Homo sapiens: one gene and its partners. The protein of the gene in region 1 purifies or fractionates together with the protein of each later gene. This does not show direct contact. Each region holds a gene or a part of one and is shown on either strand. Other genes may lie near its edges.

What was found.
Region 2: the proteins of EMX2 (region 1) and SERPINB8 purify together in Homo sapiens (affinity purification with mass spectrometry; one large-scale study listed by BioGRID and IntAct). This does not show direct contact.
Region 3: the proteins of EMX2 (region 1) and LRP4 purify together in Homo sapiens (affinity purification with mass spectrometry; one large-scale study listed by BioGRID and IntAct). This does not show direct contact.
Region 4: the proteins of EMX2 (region 1) and ACAD11 purify together in Homo sapiens (affinity purification with mass spectrometry; one large-scale study listed by BioGRID and IntAct). This does not show direct contact.

Annotation. Positions count from the first base shown.
Region 1 is NC_000010.11:117,545,746-117,550,124, reverse strand, and holds the end of EMX2 (homeobox protein EMX2), read right to left. Parts: coding exon 4,309-4,379; intron 2,061-4,308; coding exon 1,893-2,060; 3' UTR 579-1,892; downstream 1-578. UniProt on the Homo sapiens protein: Transcription factor, which in cooperation with EMX1, acts to generate the boundary between the roof and archipallium in the developing brain. May function in combination with OTX1/2 to specify cell fates in the developing central nervous system.
Region 2 is NC_000018.10:63,985,967-63,989,874, forward strand, and holds the end of SERPINB8 (serpin B8), read left to right. Parts: intron 1-291; coding exon of another isoform or gene 292-300; exon of another isoform or gene 301-684; intron 685-907; coding exon 908-1,312; 3' UTR 1,313-3,408; downstream 3,409-3,908. UniProt on the Homo sapiens protein: Has an important role in epithelial desmosome-mediated cell-cell adhesion.
Region 3 is NC_000011.10:46,856,217-46,860,664, forward strand, and holds the end of LRP4 (low-density lipoprotein receptor-related protein 4 precursor), read right to left. Parts: intron 3,100-4,448; coding exon 2,767-3,099; 3' UTR 501-2,766; downstream 1-500. UniProt on the Homo sapiens protein: Mediates SOST-dependent inhibition of bone formation. Functions as a specific facilitator of SOST-mediated inhibition of Wnt signaling.
Region 4 is NC_000003.12:132,558,810-132,563,423, reverse strand, and holds part of ACAD11 (acyl-CoA dehydrogenase family member 11), read left to right. Parts: intron 1-2,206; coding exon 2,207-2,323; intron 2,324-3,481; coding exon 3,482-3,591; intron 3,592-4,338; coding exon 4,339-4,453; 3' UTR 4,454-4,614. UniProt on the Homo sapiens protein: Acyl-CoA dehydrogenase, that exhibits maximal activity towards saturated C22-CoA.

The DNA.
Region 1 (4,379 bases):
TGATTACAACTTTTTCTTTAATGTTAAAATTAAGAGTTGAAGGTTTTTCAGAACACTTGCCTTATAAGGCTGCTGAGGCCCTTGGGCTTGGCCCATCACCTTCAGCAGATTGGGGCCAGGGAGAGGAGGAAAGAAAGGAAGGAAAAGTAAGACTTGTACTTTGGGGTTTGAAGTCAGAAAGTTTAGAAGTTGCAAGATTCTGCTACATGTTTTCCCCAATATTTTGGGAGAGTAGTCCTCAATGTGTAACTATATGTCCAGTTTTTTTTTAATAACCAGAGGTTAAGAGAAGTAAGCATTTTAACCTGAAGTTCAAACTAAACTCCCTCAGGAGGGCATACAATGGGCAAAGTCTGGTTGAAAAACTTTTCTCCCATCTCTTTTCTGAAGGACTTAAGTTTTCCTAATCTTCTCCCTTCTCCACCCTCATCTTTCTTTAAAATGCCTGAGAATCCATCAATCTGGCCCTTTTGTGGGTGAGGAGCCTGGGTTTCTTGAGCCTAGTTGGGGAAGGACCACACTCAAATTACTGAGATACATTTTTAAAGATCCACTTCAATTTCCCAAGACGACTACTCTGAGGGCATATTGATAAATCTTTATTGACAAAATATTGACATTGACATACTTCTTGGAAGTATATAGTGTGTTAGAATTCTAACAAATTAACACAAAACACAAAAATATTTACATTCTGGTATAGAAGACATTAAGGAAGCATTTGTCACTCTCTTTAGTAAGTCTATGATCTTGGAATAGAAACTCAGTGCTTGAAAACTTGCCGCCGTGCGCTTGGCCACACTTAACATCATCCCCGCTAACTACAGTCCTTCAGGTTTTGCAATAGATAGATTTAAAGTTTGGAATAGGCATTGCAGTGAATGGTTGAACTCGGCCAATTTCTCCAACCACTGAAAGGAGAAGTTTGCATCAGGGTTTTAAGCCTCAGGATGTTAGGAAAGGGAATGTCCAAGAAATATAATTAATTTAGGGGTTTTTTTCCCAGTACAAGTCCTGATTCTTTTTGTGGGCACCCTCCCCCGCCACCCCCAGCCCCCCCGTCGTCCTGCTCCCCGTTTCTCTGTAAGAGGACCACTATCGCTGAGCCTACTTCATTTAGCTTGCACAATCACTTTGACATCAGAAGGTATCAAAAAGTGTTTACAGACTGCACATTTCTTGGGAAAAAAAATCAAAATAAAAAGCACACAGAACCTGTCTTTAAAAGGAAAAGAAAATTACAATTCATTTTCGGTCTTTAAACACCATTCGCCCAACAACTGCTACATGCATTTCAAGGATTTGAAACAGGTGTGGGATGGGGCTAGATATGGAATTTTTGTTTTTTATTACTAATTATTTTTAAAGATGGGGGGGAAACACAGCGAAGTGCAAAAAACAAAAAAGTCCTGTGCCTGGTTGGGTCGTGGTTTTTATCATCATCATCATTTTTTAAGTGGACTGTGATAAACGGAATACCTGCCAATCATCTTGTCTCCCCGGTTTGGTGTTTGATTGACAGCTCCCCTTGTCAGAGTGCACGTTCAGCTTTCTCTCTCTCTCTCTCTCTCTCTCTTTCTCTCTCTTTCTCTCTCTCCCTCCCTCTTTCTCCTTCTCTCTGTGTCTCTCACTCAGCTGCCTCTTTAGACGAGGGTCGCTTGTTGATGAAGGAGCCTCCATCCTCTGCCATCTTGGCGCGGCCTCGGTTTGGGACCCTGTGCCCTCGCTGTCCAGAGTCTTCGCCGCATTCCGCTGCTCCCTCCGATTCCCTCTCCCTTTCTCGGTGAACGTGTATGCGGTTTGTTTTTGTTTTGTAGGGTTTTTTCCTTCTCCACCTCTCCCTGTCTCTTTTGCTCCATGTTGTCCGTTTCTGTGGGGTTAGGTTTATGTTTTTAATCATCTGAGGTCACGTCTATTTCCTCCGGACTCGCCTGCTTGGTGGCGATTCTCCACCGGTTAATATGGTGCGTCCCTTTTTTCTTTTGTTGCGAATCTGAGCCTTCTTCCTCCAGCTTCTGCCTTTTGAACTTTGTTCTTCGGTTCTGAAACCATACTTTTACCTGCGGGTGAGAGGCAGATGGGGTGCGTTAGTTCTTTCAGAGCACCCTTCTATCAAGTGCCTGATCCTTTCACCCAGCCCAGACTCCAGTTCCAGACTCAGCAAAGACCCAGCCCCCGAGATGCAAGTCCTAAGGTCCAGCCTCCCCAAGGCCTGCCCTCAGGGAGCAGGGCCGCTAGTGCGTGGTGGAACAGAAGCCCAGCTCCCTGCCCTTCTGAGGCTTCCTGAAGAGCCTTTCCCCAGGGCCCTGTGGCCCGGAGTGCACTGAGCCCCATCTCTCCTGGCCCTGCAGAGGGCATCTATATCCCGCTGAGAGCAAAGCCTTGCAAAGCATGGGAAGCCCCTACAAAAATAATAAGTGATTAAAAGAAAAAGAGACATGTCCCTAACTCCCTCCAGCAAGCGAGTGCAAGAGAGACCTCAGTCCGCCGCTGCTGCAGCTCCCCTCAGGGCCCAATGTGCTTTCTATTTTCTGCTGGTCTGGGCGGCGTTTCCTAAATATAGCGTCTCCTCTTCGTGGCGGGGGCCCTGGGTAGGCGATCAGGGTTTGCCTGAGCTGCATCCTCCGTGCGGGGGACTCTCACAGGTGAGCAGGAAGGGGATGGGGCTGGAGGAGGCCAGGAGGGACATGGAGTGTGTAGGCCTCCAGACCAACCCAGCTGTACCTTTATAGCTAGGAAAATGAGTTCAAAACTGAAAGCTTCTGAAAGACCGTGGGTTACACGGAAAGTAAGAGAAACTAAGAGAAGGGGAGGTGACAGCAAGCCCCCTCTTCCCTCCTTCTAAACAGCCCCGGAACAGGCTGCTGGTCACACAACCTCGGACCCCAGTCCCATCACTTCCCACCAGGGTGGGGCTGGAGGCCCGGCCTCACCAGAGCGGCTGTGAGAGGTCTCAGGAGCAATGAGGTGGGAGTCGGCTGCCATCCCACGGCCCCCTAGGAAAGCTGAGTCGTGGGTCCTCATTTAGCCACCAGACAGTAACACAGTCCAATCTTCACAGCAGTGGTGTACAGGTAAGGGAGATGGCAGTGACTGCACCTCTGATACCCTCCCCCCACAACTCCTATTCTATCTGGATAAGAGTACCCCACAGCCCAGTGCCAGTCCCTGGACCCCTGGGATCCATTCCATTCCCTCCTTTGAGGCCGCAGGCCGGTCCGTCTTGCTCTCCCGGAAAGCCACAGTCGCCCAAAGTGCTCCATGAAAAAAGCTGAGCGGGAACAAGGCTGAATTTAATTTGCTTTGAGTTTGCTAATTGAGGGGGAGGACGGTTCATTTCTCCCCGGCGCTGGCCCAAGGCGCGCGTCGGTGCGCTCGGGGCTTGACACGCACACAAAGACTCCAGGCAGCGTGGGCAGCGAGGCGGACAAAGACCACCGCCGCCTCGGCTGTCCAGGAGAAATCAGCCGGGCCGCGCCTTGTGCCGGGCTCCGCACAAACCCGCCAGGCCCTCCTCGGTTTTGGGGTGGGGAACATGTTTTAAAACAAAAGCCTCGACCTTTCTGAGCTGCCCAGGAAAAGTGTTACAACTTAGTCTGCCCAAAAAAACGTTACTGTTTGCTGGGAACTTTGACCCCGCCCTGCGGCTCCGTGTACAGTAGCGCCTAGTGTAGTCCTAAACCCCCTCCCCACCCTGGGATAAACCCAAGCCAGGCCCGCCCAGGGACCCTGCTGTGCAGAAGGCCTGTGCCCTGAGGCAGACCCTCTCTGCAGCCTCCCAACTTTACTTCTCTGATATAGGGTACACACAGGACGCTTGCCCTCTACCTTCCCATCGCCCATCTCCTTCAGGGAAGTCACTGGAGCCGACGGTGTGAGCCGTGGGCTCACAGTCGCTCAGAACTCATCTTTAACCCACATCCTGTCCTTACCAGCCTCCAGCTCCAAACACCCAGAAACCCCACTGTGCTCTCCCTCTTCCTGGACCCCAGCAGGGGTCTTCACACTCTCATCAAAAGTCTCACCAGAAATGCAGGGATGTCTTAGCCAGGACATGCCCAACTGGACAGAGAAACAACTCGGCGCGTTTCCCCAGAACCTGGGGCAGATTGGCACTTACAGCCCCTTTCTGGAGCCCAACAAAGCCAGCACCTTGAGACATACATCCCGAGCCCAGGCGTGGAACCAGCTACCAGGACCTGTGCGGAAGGCCCTCACAGAGCTCCGTGCTCATGGGTGTGCTTGGGAGCCAGCTTTGGGGAGGGGGCGCACGCCTAGATGGGTTCCTCGCGCCCGGGCCGCAGTCACCTGAGTTTCCGTGAGGCTGAGGCTGTGTGCCAGCTGCTTCCTTTCGGCGCCCACCACGTAGTGATTCTTCT
Region 2 (3,908 bases), on another chromosome or scaffold:
GTTTAACAATTGATAGGGGTCAGCTCTGGCACACCAATGCACAGGATGTTGAGGGTGGGCTGCTTGATTTTCCTGGCTTCCCTTTGGAATCAGAAAGCTACTGCCCTAAGTCAGGGATGACATCTGTTGTGGCCACTTATGAGAAAATTAGGAGAGTCTAGAAATAGAGTCAAAATCAAAACAATGCTCGTTGGAGAGGAGTACCCACCTGGGCTCCAGTTGTTAAAGGGAAGGGGAGATGCTAGTGGAAGGCCTTTCTCCCTTTTTTCTTTCTACCTTATTGATAAATAGAAAGAGTGATGGATCTTGAAGAATTTGAAGCTAACTCCAGGACAGGCAGAGGACAAACAAGGATGCTGATGAAGTCTTCTTGCATTCCCCATTTCTCGTCTCATGCTCCCTTCTCATGCCTCCCTTCATCTTCAGATGAAACACAATTCCCTCTCTTTTACTCTGAGTTGCCCTCTGATTTAACCCTGAATAGTCCCCTCATTAGACTCAGAAGCAGAGTTCTGAGCCATGCTCTTTGTCTTTTGTCAAACAATCTCTCCCACTCACAGTAGTATGTATTGCATGAAGATTAATGTAATGAATTGGTTAGAATTTTCTAAACTGTTAAAAAATGTTTTTAACATTTGAAAGGAGTTAGGTACAAATTGTTTTTATTAAAAATTTCTGCCTGTCTCAGGTGTTTACTAGCTCTTTTACACTTGTCTCCATAAAACTGTGAAAAGATGAAAATTTGGGAGAAAATCTTGGTGTGTTTATAAAAGAAAATATCTGTAGATTTTCTTGGACCAGAACTCACCATCTAATTGCATGTCATTGGGGGAGGGGTAATAAATGGGTGTGTGGGTATCAGGCTATTGTCATCTAAATTTTAAGGTTTGAGTCTTTCTTATCCTAGGTGGAAAAAGCACTTACATATGAGAAATTCAAAGCCTGGACAAATTCAGAAAAGTTGACAAAAAGTAAGGTTCAAGTTTTCCTTCCCAGATTAAAGCTGGAGGAGAGTTATGACTTGGAGCCTTTCCTTCGAAGATTAGGAATGATCGATGCTTTTGACGAAGCCAAGGCAGACTTTTCTGGAATGTCAACTGAGAAGAATGTGCCTCTGTCCAAGGTTGCCCACAAGTGCTTCGTGGAGGTCAATGAGGAAGGCACAGAGGCTGCCGCAGCCACTGCTGTGGTCAGGAATTCCCGGTGCAGCAGAATGGAGCCAAGATTCTGTGCAGACCACCCTTTTCTTTTCTTCATCAGGCACCACAAAACCAACTGCATCTTGTTCTGTGGCAGGTTCTCTTCTCCGTAAAGAGGAGCAATTGCTGTACATACCCTCCTTTCCTTCTACCTATCTTGCCTTAATTAACATTCCCTGTGACCTAGTTGGTGCAGTGGCTTGAATGCCAAAATAAAGCGTGTGCACTGGATAGTGTGTGAAAGTCTTTGCTGAAAGTTCCAGAGCCATTGAGAATAACTGAGGCCGCAGATGCATGAAATTTGGGCCTGGGAAGGCTATGCTGGTTTTGGAGTGTTTGGGGTGCCTGCCATTGCCTCTGCCTTCACCTAAGTCTGTGCCCATTGTTTCAGGGGATCTTATGGAGCATCTCAGGGCTTCAGGAGCCAGCCCTCTTCCATCCGCCCGGCTCTGCCCACCACCACTGCCAGGCTGAACAGGGGACTAGTGCCCAGGTGACACTGCACACAAAGCCAAGGGCAAACCCTATAGAGTAAAGCTGCAGCCACCCTGTGTCTCATGTGCAGCTGAAATAGTGATCTGCTTCTGTCACTGTCACATAGACAGCCCTGCATGCCCCCTGTCTCACACAGTTTGTAATGAAGACAGCTCCTTCTCATCTTTCCATAAGCCTGAGATACAAGTTCAGGGACTCAGCAATGCACTTTAGGACTGAGCTAGGAGGCAAATATCTGAAGCTTGCTATGCTGTTCTTTCCATTCCTTTTCCCTCTGAAACACACAAAATACCAAAGGAACTTACGCAACACACCACTGAGTCCTCTAACTAATCATATGTGCTCAGACACAGCTCAAGCACACCCCTTAGTTAAGAAAGAACCTCCATATACATTAATTTTTTTCTGCCTAAAAATAAAATTGCGTTGTGGCAGCAATTTGGAAACTACAGCAAAGTCTCCAAAAAAATTGAAGTCACCCACAATTCCAACACACAGCAATCACTGCTGTTAATAGTGATATACATCCTTCCCTATTATGTGTATGCAAATAGAAATTTATAAGCATTTTACTACAAGTTAATCATATCCTTCAGTAGCTTATTTCTTCCCTTATGAAAAACCTCCCTTAAGATCTTTCCAGGTCATCAATTTGATGTGCATAGTATTCCACTGTGTGGCTGGATTTCTATAATTGAATCTAATTTTAGACAGTTTGAGTAATTAAAATTATTTCTATTAACAAATAATAGATTGCTAATAATATATATTATGCTGTTTTGGATATACTAAATATTTGCTCACATCCTTAATATATTTTTTAAAATTCCTAACAATAGTACTGTTGAGATAAAAGTTGAGCACATTTTGAGACTTCTTCCAAATTGGTCCCTAGAAAGTTACACTGGTTTGTACTCTCACTTATGTCACTGTTTATACCACCACTGACTGCTGCCTGCTTTATTATTTCTTTAATGAGTTGGACTGAACAGTGGTTAATCCTGACTCTGTTTTTGACTGACAGTTAACAGTTACATGAACCATTCATATTACAGCTCTTACTTAAATTTGACCAAGCCAGGATATATCTGTTAGGCCACATTCATTTAGGGATCATGTTTTCCAAAGCAGGTTTGGGCAAAATTAATCCACAGGACTGAAAGGTATACATCTGTGAGTTTTGTTCTCACTTCCACCTCTAATTTGAAGAACACTTTAATTGACACAGAATACATTTCACATATTTAACCTCTACAATAAGTTCTGACACATTTTCCATGAAACAAACCATCGCTATATTCAAGATAATGAACCTATCTATCATACTCCCAAATTCCTTCTTGCATCTTTGTAATTTCTCACTCTTCCTTCTCCCTCTCCCCGTCCCATCCCAACCACTGATCTGCTCAGGCAACTACCAATCTTCTTTCTGTCACTATAGATTAATTTGCATTTTTAAAGAAATTTACATACATGGAACCATACATCATCTATGCTTTGTAGTATGACTCCTGTCACTCAGTACAATTATTTTGAGATTCATTTATGTTATTGTATGTATCAATAGTTCATCCCTTTTATTGGTAAGTAACATTTTTTTGTATAGGTATACCATGATTTGTTGATGAACAAATTTACCTGTTGATGAACATTTACGTTGTTACCAAGATTTTTGCTATTGAAAATAAAGTTTTTATGAATATTTATATATATACATCTTTGTATGGACATATGTCTTCATTTCTTTTGTATATAGATACATAGAAGTAGAATGGCTGGGTCATATGGAAGGTGTAAGTTTAACTTTTTAAGGATCTGCCAAATTGCCTTTGAAAGTGGTTGTATCATTTAACATTCCCAGTAAAGCCTAGGAGAGTTCTGGTTTTTCTCTCTTCTCACCAATACTTGGTACTACCAGTGTTGTTACTTTCAGCGTGTACCGGCTTTTGGTTGCATTTCCCTAATGCCTAATTATGTTCAGCATTTAAAAAAATGTGCTTAGGCCGGGCGCGGTGGCTCACGCCTGTAATCCCAGCACTTTGGGAGGCCGAGGCGGGCGGATCACGAGGTAAGGAGATCGAGACCATCCCGGCTAAAACGGTGAAACCCCGTCTCTACTAAAAATACAAAAAATTAGCTGGGCGTAGTGGTGGGCGCCTGTAGTCCCAGCTACTCGGGAGGCTGAGGCAGGAGAATGGCGTGAACCCGGGAGGC
Region 3 (4,448 bases), on another chromosome or scaffold:
CTTGTTCTAGCCTTGAGAAGTAGTGGATGAGCTATGAAAAGACAGCTTTTAAAAATAAATGAAATCCTAGTGATAATTTGATCCACTCTCAGACTAACTATGAAAGTTGACTAAGATCAAACAGAGCTAGTGGCAGATCTGGGACTGGAATTAGCCCTCCATGTCCCCAGCTCCAGTACTTTTCTTACTACATGAGATAGTCTTGCCAGTGACCATCACTGCAAGGCAAAGTAAAGTTCTGTAACAAAGACCTAGAACAGAAATAGAAGATACATGGTATACATGCCATGACATTTCCTTCCAGTGCACAGAAGAGATGTCACTAGCCATATGACATTCTTCCCATTGGGTGCGAATAGGCCCTCAGGCAGCCACTACCAACCAGTCAGAGTCAGCACTCAAGAGGAAACCCATCTACCATTCCTCTTCCAGAGGAAATAAAGGTTTCATCAGTCAAGGAACTCTGGCCTCGACCTGTCTTCTCCAGATGAGCTGAAAACTCCAGCAGGAACCTCACACTCTTTATTGCTCTTCACTGTGCCCACATCCACAAAGGACTTAAAAGTGATGTCTGTAAGCAGGTTTTCCACAGCATGGGTCTGCCAGACAGAGCAGGTGCAGGATTAGTCATGACTCCAAGCCAGGCAAGGTGATTAAGAAAAGCTAAATTTATATTAAATTATCATAAAGTCCTAAAATACTGAACATAGTGGTTAAATAACTCCAGAAAGTCCAATCTCTCCAGTGAGTAACGTTAAAACCATTACACATGAGCATGGGAGAATCGCTTCCATTAGTTTAGGACAGAGAGATTTTGCTTTTTACAGAGTAAATCAGTGCTCAAATAGATACTTCCTCAAATATGTCCTTTCTACATTCTGAACAGCCCAAGTGCAATAAGATCCTTCCCCCTTTCCAATCAAGAAAATGCCACTTTTCTACTTGCTCTTCCTCCCCAGACGTGAGTCTAAGGACCCAAAGTGCTCACTCCTTTACTGCTTGTTAAGTGTAATGTGGGGAGGCTCAGAACTGGGGCTGACGCTACTGAGAGCAAGGCTAAGGGCCTGGTATCTCTCTCTAGCAGTCTTAGAACTGACTAGAAAAGAATTGATCTTGTCCTTTTTCACTTTGGTAGCTGATTTCTCAATACCAGTAACCACAGGAGAAGTTTCAACTCAGGAAACTTCCCCTAGAAATTCTCCCCTCCATTCCCAGCCCCTGTTGTTCTCTCCTGCCACTTCTAATTCCTGGGGGAGAAGAGGTCTGGGTCTGCCATGGGCTAGGAGGGCCTCATCAGTGGTGCTCTCTACCTTCCTACTCCTTACCCACCTCTTTGTATTTTTATTTATTCAGCCCTCCCACCACAGGACTTTGGAGATTGCTGGTGCCACAAGGCTTGGTCAGAAAAAGCAAATTAGGCAAAAAAACAAACAAAAAAACCCCACGAAGAACAGCTAGGGAGACGTTTTAGGGCAAAAATAAGTCTCAATTTCCCTGATACCAGGCTGAGACACGTGCCCTTTGTGTGAATGAGCATGAACCAAGTGATGGCATCCCACATGGAAACTAAGCCCCTTAGCTGAGGGGACAGCTGGAAGAGGAACATCACCACCCCGTAGCCACAGGCTTGCTGTCCACTAACTTAGATCCCTGAGCACTTGAGAAAGAACATAGGAAGTTCAACAGGAAGTTTGACCCTCATGGATACTTCTCTTTAGGCCCTGGGTTTCCCAAGTCTCCAACCTGATCGTTCTTTCTGACCATTTATGACAACTTCTGGTTTTTCTTTGAAAGCTTGTTTCTAGGTCTCTTCCCCAGAATCCCAGGACATGAGGGAGAGAGGGGTCAGGAGGTATACCATATTTGGTCTAGGCAGAGCTTCTTAGACTTTTCAGAGACTCAGCCCCCAAGGCCTAACATTCACTCAAGCCACTGGCTCACAACCTGGTTAATTTGAGCAAAGACTTAGGAAAGGTACTGGCCAGTGGTGGCACCAGGAGGGAATTCCTATTAGCCAGTAGCCTTGTGATAGGGGACCCAGTTATCTGAATGTAGAAACAGCTCCAGACATTCTAGGAGGAGGAAGAACAGCCTGAGCCACCCCCATCTCACCAGTATCTGCTGCTGAAAAGGCAGTGTCTCTTAGGGCAAGAATAATGTCCACTGCCAGCAATGGACCAGACACCCAGATCCAACTACCCCCCAAAGCTTTTTCATGTTACTAACACACTTGAGGCTGGAGGTTTCCCAGATGCCCATACCTGCTGGGCTGATTCTTCCTTCTTCTCTCAGCCTCTATCCTTCATCCCTGTCTTTACCCACACCCCCATGTCCCAGCCCCTGATGGGCAAGTTCTCTCAGAGAAGCAGTCATGCTGGCTGTGATGGGGCAGAGCGCAGTCCTGGGTCATCAGCTGCATCAGCACTGAGAAGCAGGCACTGAGGGTACTGGGGAAAGGGGAGGTGGAGCTCTACGCTGGTGAGGAATCACGAATAAGCAGTTTCAGGGGGCCCAGGATGGAGTACAAGATGTGAGGTTCATGGTAAAATCCAGGTCTAAATTCTCGTGATGTGCCATCATTTCTTGTGCACAGGTAGTTATGGACTCACGTGGTAAACAGCTCCGGTGAAGGCTTAGGAACAGTTATGGGGTGGGAGGAGGAGGAGGACAAGCACACAGAAGCGGGGCCTGCGGTGTAAGCGAGCACAAGGACTAGACGTCCATAAAGGAGAAGGAACAGGCAGGCAGGGAAGAGAATGTGGGCATTTAGACCTGGCTCTCTGAGGAGAGCTTGCGTTCATGTTTCCAGCCCGTGTCTGGCAGAGAGCCTCGTCTTTCTGGAGTGGCTGCAGTATGGACGCTGCTACACTCAGACTGCTCTTCCTGTAACAGCTGCTCCGTCTCTGTGTCATCCAGGGAGCCAGAGCTGGCCTGGATGGACACCGTGTCTGTCTTCATGCATACATGATCCCGGAGGAGGCCCCCCCGTGAGCTTCGCAGTTGCTTGAGGTCATCCCACTCAGCATCATCCCCAGACAGGAGGCAGATTCCCTCTACGATCTTGATCTTCTCCTTGGTGTAGTTATGGTCAGGCCCTCCCTAGGGTGGAGAGTGGGCAGATATGGTCAGTCAGTTGGCCTTCTACAAAGGATCCCATGGTAAACTGAAAAAGGAAGTGGATGGGGTAAGAGTAGGAGTGAAGCGCACAAAAATCCCACAAACAAATGGGGAAATGTGATTAAGACAAGTGTATGAGGCCTAGCCTAAAAGGGGAGAGGCAGCTGTGATAATTATTACCATTACCATACAGGAGGAGGGAAAACCATGGCTTCCGGTCCTGCAGCAGCCACTCACTGGCTTTGTCACCTTAGGCAAATTATTTCACATTTCTAAAACTCAGTCTCTTAAGACTCTGCAGTGTGAGGAGAGTAACAGTATCCACACCTCACAACCAACTGCTGTCACCTTAAATGAGATGATACATGGAATGCAGTTATCAGGGAGCTTGACACAAGATGCACTATAACATGTTAGCTATGTTACATTGTTACTGTGGTTTATTAATGGGACATCATGCTGATATAAATCATCAAAAGCAATTGGCAAGAGCAATTAAATGTACATTTATTCAGGATTTTAAGCTACTTCGGGTGCTAGTTTGTATCTCTTTTTTCTAATTTTGTTAAGGAGAAAACTTGGGAGGTAAGACAGGGGACTCTAGAAAATCCTCTTATCTGGCCGGGCGTGGTGGCTTACACCTGTAATCCCAGCACTTTGGGAGGCCCAGGCGGGCAGATCACTTGAGTTCAGGAGTTCGAGACTAGCCTGGCCAACATGGTGAAACCCCATCTCTACTAAAAATACAAAAATCAGCTGGGTTTGGTGGCGGGTGCCTGTAATCCCAGCTATTTGGGAGGCTGAGGCAGGAGAATCCCTTGAACTCCGGAGGCTGAGGTTACAGTGAGCCAAGATCATGCCACTGCACTCCAGCCTGGGTGACAGAGCAAGATTCCATTAAAAAAAAAAAAAGAAAGAAAGAAAGAAAAAAAACTAAAAAAAAGGAAATCTTCTTATCTGGGTCCTAAACGTCAATATAGTGGGGTCCTGCAACTTATAACCTTTTTTGGGAGGTTACTCTCGCTCTGCTGCCATGAGTCCTGGGACCATTCCCAAGCAAAACCTGGGACTCTTCCAGGCACAGCCTGGAGTTCTGCTCGGGCCTCTCCCTTTATGGCTTCTTCAAAGAGCAGCCTCACTCCTGGCTGCTGGGGTATACCAACCGACATACCACCACTGCTAGAAGAAAATGGATCATCTTGGGTTCTGTCCCTGGGATAGTATTCCTGCCAAGAGTTCTGCAACTGTGGCTGTGGCTCTATTTTTGTAACAATTCAATTCCACAGATATTTACTGAGCCCCTATGTTAAGCAGAAGACTGTGCTAGGTGC
Region 4 (4,614 bases), on another chromosome or scaffold:
AGACTAACAGATTAAAGATGTTAACCATCCTCAAATTGATCTGCAGACTTAAGGCAGTTCCAATCACAGTCCCAAAAGGACAATTTTGTAGATAAAGACAGACTGATCCTAAAATTTATATGGAAATACAAAAACACTAAAGTAGCCAAAACAATTTGAAAAAGAAGAAAGCTCAGTGAATCACACTACCTAATCTTAAGACTTACTCTAAACTACAGTAATCAGTGAGCAAAAGGCATGTAGATCTTTGGAGCAGAAGAGAGAGTCCAGGAATAGATTCATAGAAATATAGGCCAATTAATTTTTTACATAGGTGCAAAGGCAGTTCAATGGAAAAGGTTACATCTTTACAGTAAATGGTGTTGCAGCAATTGGACATAGATAGGCAAAAGAGGGACCCTTGATCTAAACCACACACCTCACACAAAATTTTAACTCTAAATGGATCATAGATCTAAATGTAAAAGGTAAAGCTGTAAACTTTTAGAAGAAAACATAGTGGAAAAATCATTTTCTGGGATTAGGTAAAATGTTCCTAAACATGCACCAAAAGCAAGGCTCATAAAAGAAAGAATTGACAGATTTCTCATGTGGCAAATGACTAGCGTCCTGAATATATGAAGGACTCTCTAAATCAAATAGTAAGAAAACAACCCAATTAAAAAATGGACAAAAGACTTTAACAGACATATCACCAAAGAGGTATAGAGATGGCAAATCAGTACATTGAAGGGGATCAACAGCAGTAGCCATTACAGAAATGCAAATTAAAACCATGATATCTCTGCACACTTAAAATGACTAAAATAAAATATGATACTAAGTGCTGATGGTTTGAGGAGCAACTGGAACTCTCATACACTGCTAGTAGGAATGCAAAATGTACAACCACTCTAGAAAACTGTCAGCTTCTTAATAAACATTTACCACTGACCCAACAATTCTACTCCTGCTATCTGCTTTAAAAAATGAAAACATGTCCACACAAAAACCCGTATACAAATACACAGAAACTCTATGAATAATCTCGCGATGGCTCACGCCTGTAATCCCAGCACTTTGGGAGGCCGAGGCAGGCAGATCACAAGGTCAGGAGTTCAAGACCAGCCTGGCCAATATGGTGAAACCCTGTCTCTACTAAAAAATACAAAAATTAGCCAGGCATGGTGATGGGCGCCTGTAGTCCCAGCTACTCAGAGGCTGAGGCAGGAGAATCGCTTGAACCCAGAAGGTGGAGGTTGCAGTGATCTGAGATGGCGCCACTGCACTCCAGCCTGGGCGACAGAGCCAGTCTGTCTCAAAAAATAAATAAATAAAATTTAAAAACTGGCAACAACCGAAATGTCCTTCAACAGGCAAATGGATAAACCAACTGATACATACTTACAATGGAATACTACTCAGCAATAAAAAGGAATGAACAGTCAATACACAGAACAATTTGGATGAAACTCAAAGGCATTAAACTGAATGAAAGAAGTTGGTCTCAAAACAATACATGCTATATGATTCTATTTACATGACATTCTGGAAAAGGCAAAACTATAGTGATGGAGAACCTATCAATGGTTGCCAGAAGTTAGGAGTGAGAGGAGCCTGTGACTAAAAAGGGGCAGCACCAGGGAGTTCTGTGGGAGATGGAACTGTTCTGTGTTCTTGACTGTGGTTATTCCAATCTATACATGTATTATAATTCAACTGTCTACTAAAGAAAAGGTCATTTTTAATGAATAAATAACAATAACAACACAGCAAATTGCTGCTGAACTGTCCCCACACTGAAATTGTGCTGAGAATTTTCTAGTTTACCTGTAAGCAGCTTCACTACCATACATTTAGCCAAGTTTCCATGACAGCAGGCAATTAGCATTCAGGAGGGCCTTTGAGTGGTTTGGCGGTAAGGCAGTTGCTCAGTTCAGCCATCTTTACCTTAGACATTAAGATATCCAAAATAAATGATTTTTCTGGGAAAATAAAATTTCTTTCTAAAATATTTCAATTTTAACTGTAAGCATTCCACAAGTATGTGGTTAGGCTGGTGTATATCAAATGAATTAACTCTTCCATTTAAAAATACATAGAGTAAAGCTTGTGAACAATCTCTGGCTTAGAGAGTGTTTTCACCAAACTATAAGACTGTGTTACACGTGGACATCAGATACCAGCTTAGCTCCTCCTTCTTTTGCTGCCTTTTCCTCCCCTATAGGAGGTTGTGGCTCACTGGATTGCTGAAAGCCGCATTGCCATTGAGAAGATCCGCTTGTTGACTCTGAAAGCTGCTCACAGCATGGACACTCTGGGCAGTGCTGGCGCTAAGAAAGAGGTGAGGCTACCTTCTCCCCTCAGACCACCAACTGCTGAGCCTTCTCCAGTTCTCTCACCTGTTGGACATTTCAGTTTTCATGGCATCTTGATGGCACTCAGAATATTGGAAGCCCCCATGTGATTTTGGGTTATAAATTATAAATGCCTGTCACTTGCTAGTCTCCTAGCAAGTGCTTTAGGGAATGATTTTCAGGAGGGAGAATATCTTCAGCATTCTTAAGATACAGCAACAAGGAATGGGGGAAATCATAGGCTTTACACAGCCCTGGAACTGCACCCACTCTGCCACTTTCTTCTAGCCTTGTGATCACGGGCAAAGTACTTAACTTTTCTGCCTAAGGCCTAGGGTTGTTGTGAAGAGTAACCAAGATGATGTACATAGAATGTGCAGAAGCCACGTACAGTGGCTCTCGCCTGTAATCCAAGCTACTTGGGAAGTGGAGGTGGGAGAATTGTTTGAGGCCAGGGATTCGAGACCAGCCTGGGCAACATAGTGAGACCCTGTCTCTTAAAAAAAAAATTAGCCGACATGGTAACTTGTACCTGTAGTCCCAGGGAGGCTGAGGCAGGGGGATTGCTTGAGCCCAGGATTCTGAGGCAGCAGTAGTGAGCTATGATCACACCTGGGAATAGCCACTCCACTCTATTCTGGGTGACAGAGTGAGAGCCTGTCTCAAATAACAAAACAAAAAATGCACAGCATGATACTGCTACATAGTAAATGTTTCATGAAAGAGACCTCTCATCCTTTGCTTTCTTATGTTTCTGGATTATATGAAATAAAGACATAATCATTTAATTCTAAAAGCCCATAAAACTGCTAAAAGAAACCTGATTAATAGCGCAAAGACCCTTGGACTATTTTTATGATCCCTAAGGTGATGAGTGTGATTTATCAGCTGCCTGAAATCCTTTTGGAAACAAGACAAGTTAGAAATAAATGGATAAAATGTGATTTGGAAGAGGTGTCTCTTTCCAGAGGGTCTGTATTGACTGAAATATGGCATTGCAGCAGGATCTCTTTGTTGGCTTTTGTTAAAGATCCTGTTTTAGTGGTGACTTGGATGTGGGAAAGTTTCCTTGTTTCATTTCCCAGTTTTGCCACATTGTGTATAGTCTAAGAAAGAAGCATTCTTTTCATATTTTGCTTATATAGATTGCAATGATCAAAGTGGCTGCCCCACGGGCTGTCAGCAAAATCGTTGACTGGGCCATCCAGGTGTGCGGAGGTGCTGGTGTTTCCCAGGATTACCCTCTGGCTAACATGTGAGTAGATGTCATTTAAGAATCATCTACGTTTGATAGGCGTGGAGGTAAAAAATCTACAGATGCCTTGACATTAATTGCTTATGTTTATTTTCAGTGTAATTGAAGGCTAAATGAAGTGATATACATTAATATAGAGCTCAACACCAAGAAATAGTTGCTCTTATTATTACAATAATCATTTCATTCCATTATGTTAATTTTTACACTGAGGGGTCCCACTGAGGATTCCTGGGCTGTAGATACAGCATGGGGTTTCGCTGAATTTGTAGCAGGACATGTCAGTGACTATCTAATATATAGATCCTGATGACTGGGAGGCAGAAAGGAACATTCTCCATTCCCCATCTGTCCATCTCCACACATAATTACAGTGTCACCTTCTCTATCACAATGGAGATAGAGTCTCATCCTTCATCAATTTTAAACCTTAAGAAAGAACTAAATATATAGTATCATACCAGTCACTGCCTGTTCTAAGTTCTAGCAACATGTAGTAAACTGTAGCAAACCAAGAATGAGATGAACTCCACTGTACTTTGGCATTTAACTTTCCCAAGTTGGAAACTTTAAGATGGCATTGCAGAAGCCCTTTAGCTTATTTTCCTGGTACCCTTTTTCTTACCCTGACCTTGGTGGAATTTAAGAATTAATATAGTCTTGGTTGACAATCAGAGTGACTGATGTCAAAGTATCATGTTCCTCTTCCATAACTCCCTGTGTTCCCTGATTCTTTTGCTTTTTCAGGTATGCTATAACCCGAGTTTTGCGTTTAGCAGATGGACCTGACGAAGTTCATCTTTCAGCAATCGCAACAATGGAGCTGCGGGACCAAGCCAAAAGACTGACAGCCAAGATATAAGGAGGGTGGCACTGCCACATCCCACTGGCAGAAACTCTCCTTTATACAAACTTCATTGGCTCCAACATTTGAATCTCATATTTTTGTAGCAGTTTGAGCACAGGGTTAATTATTCATTTGTGGTAAAGATTATAGCATCTATTTTGATCAGTGGGTTTTAT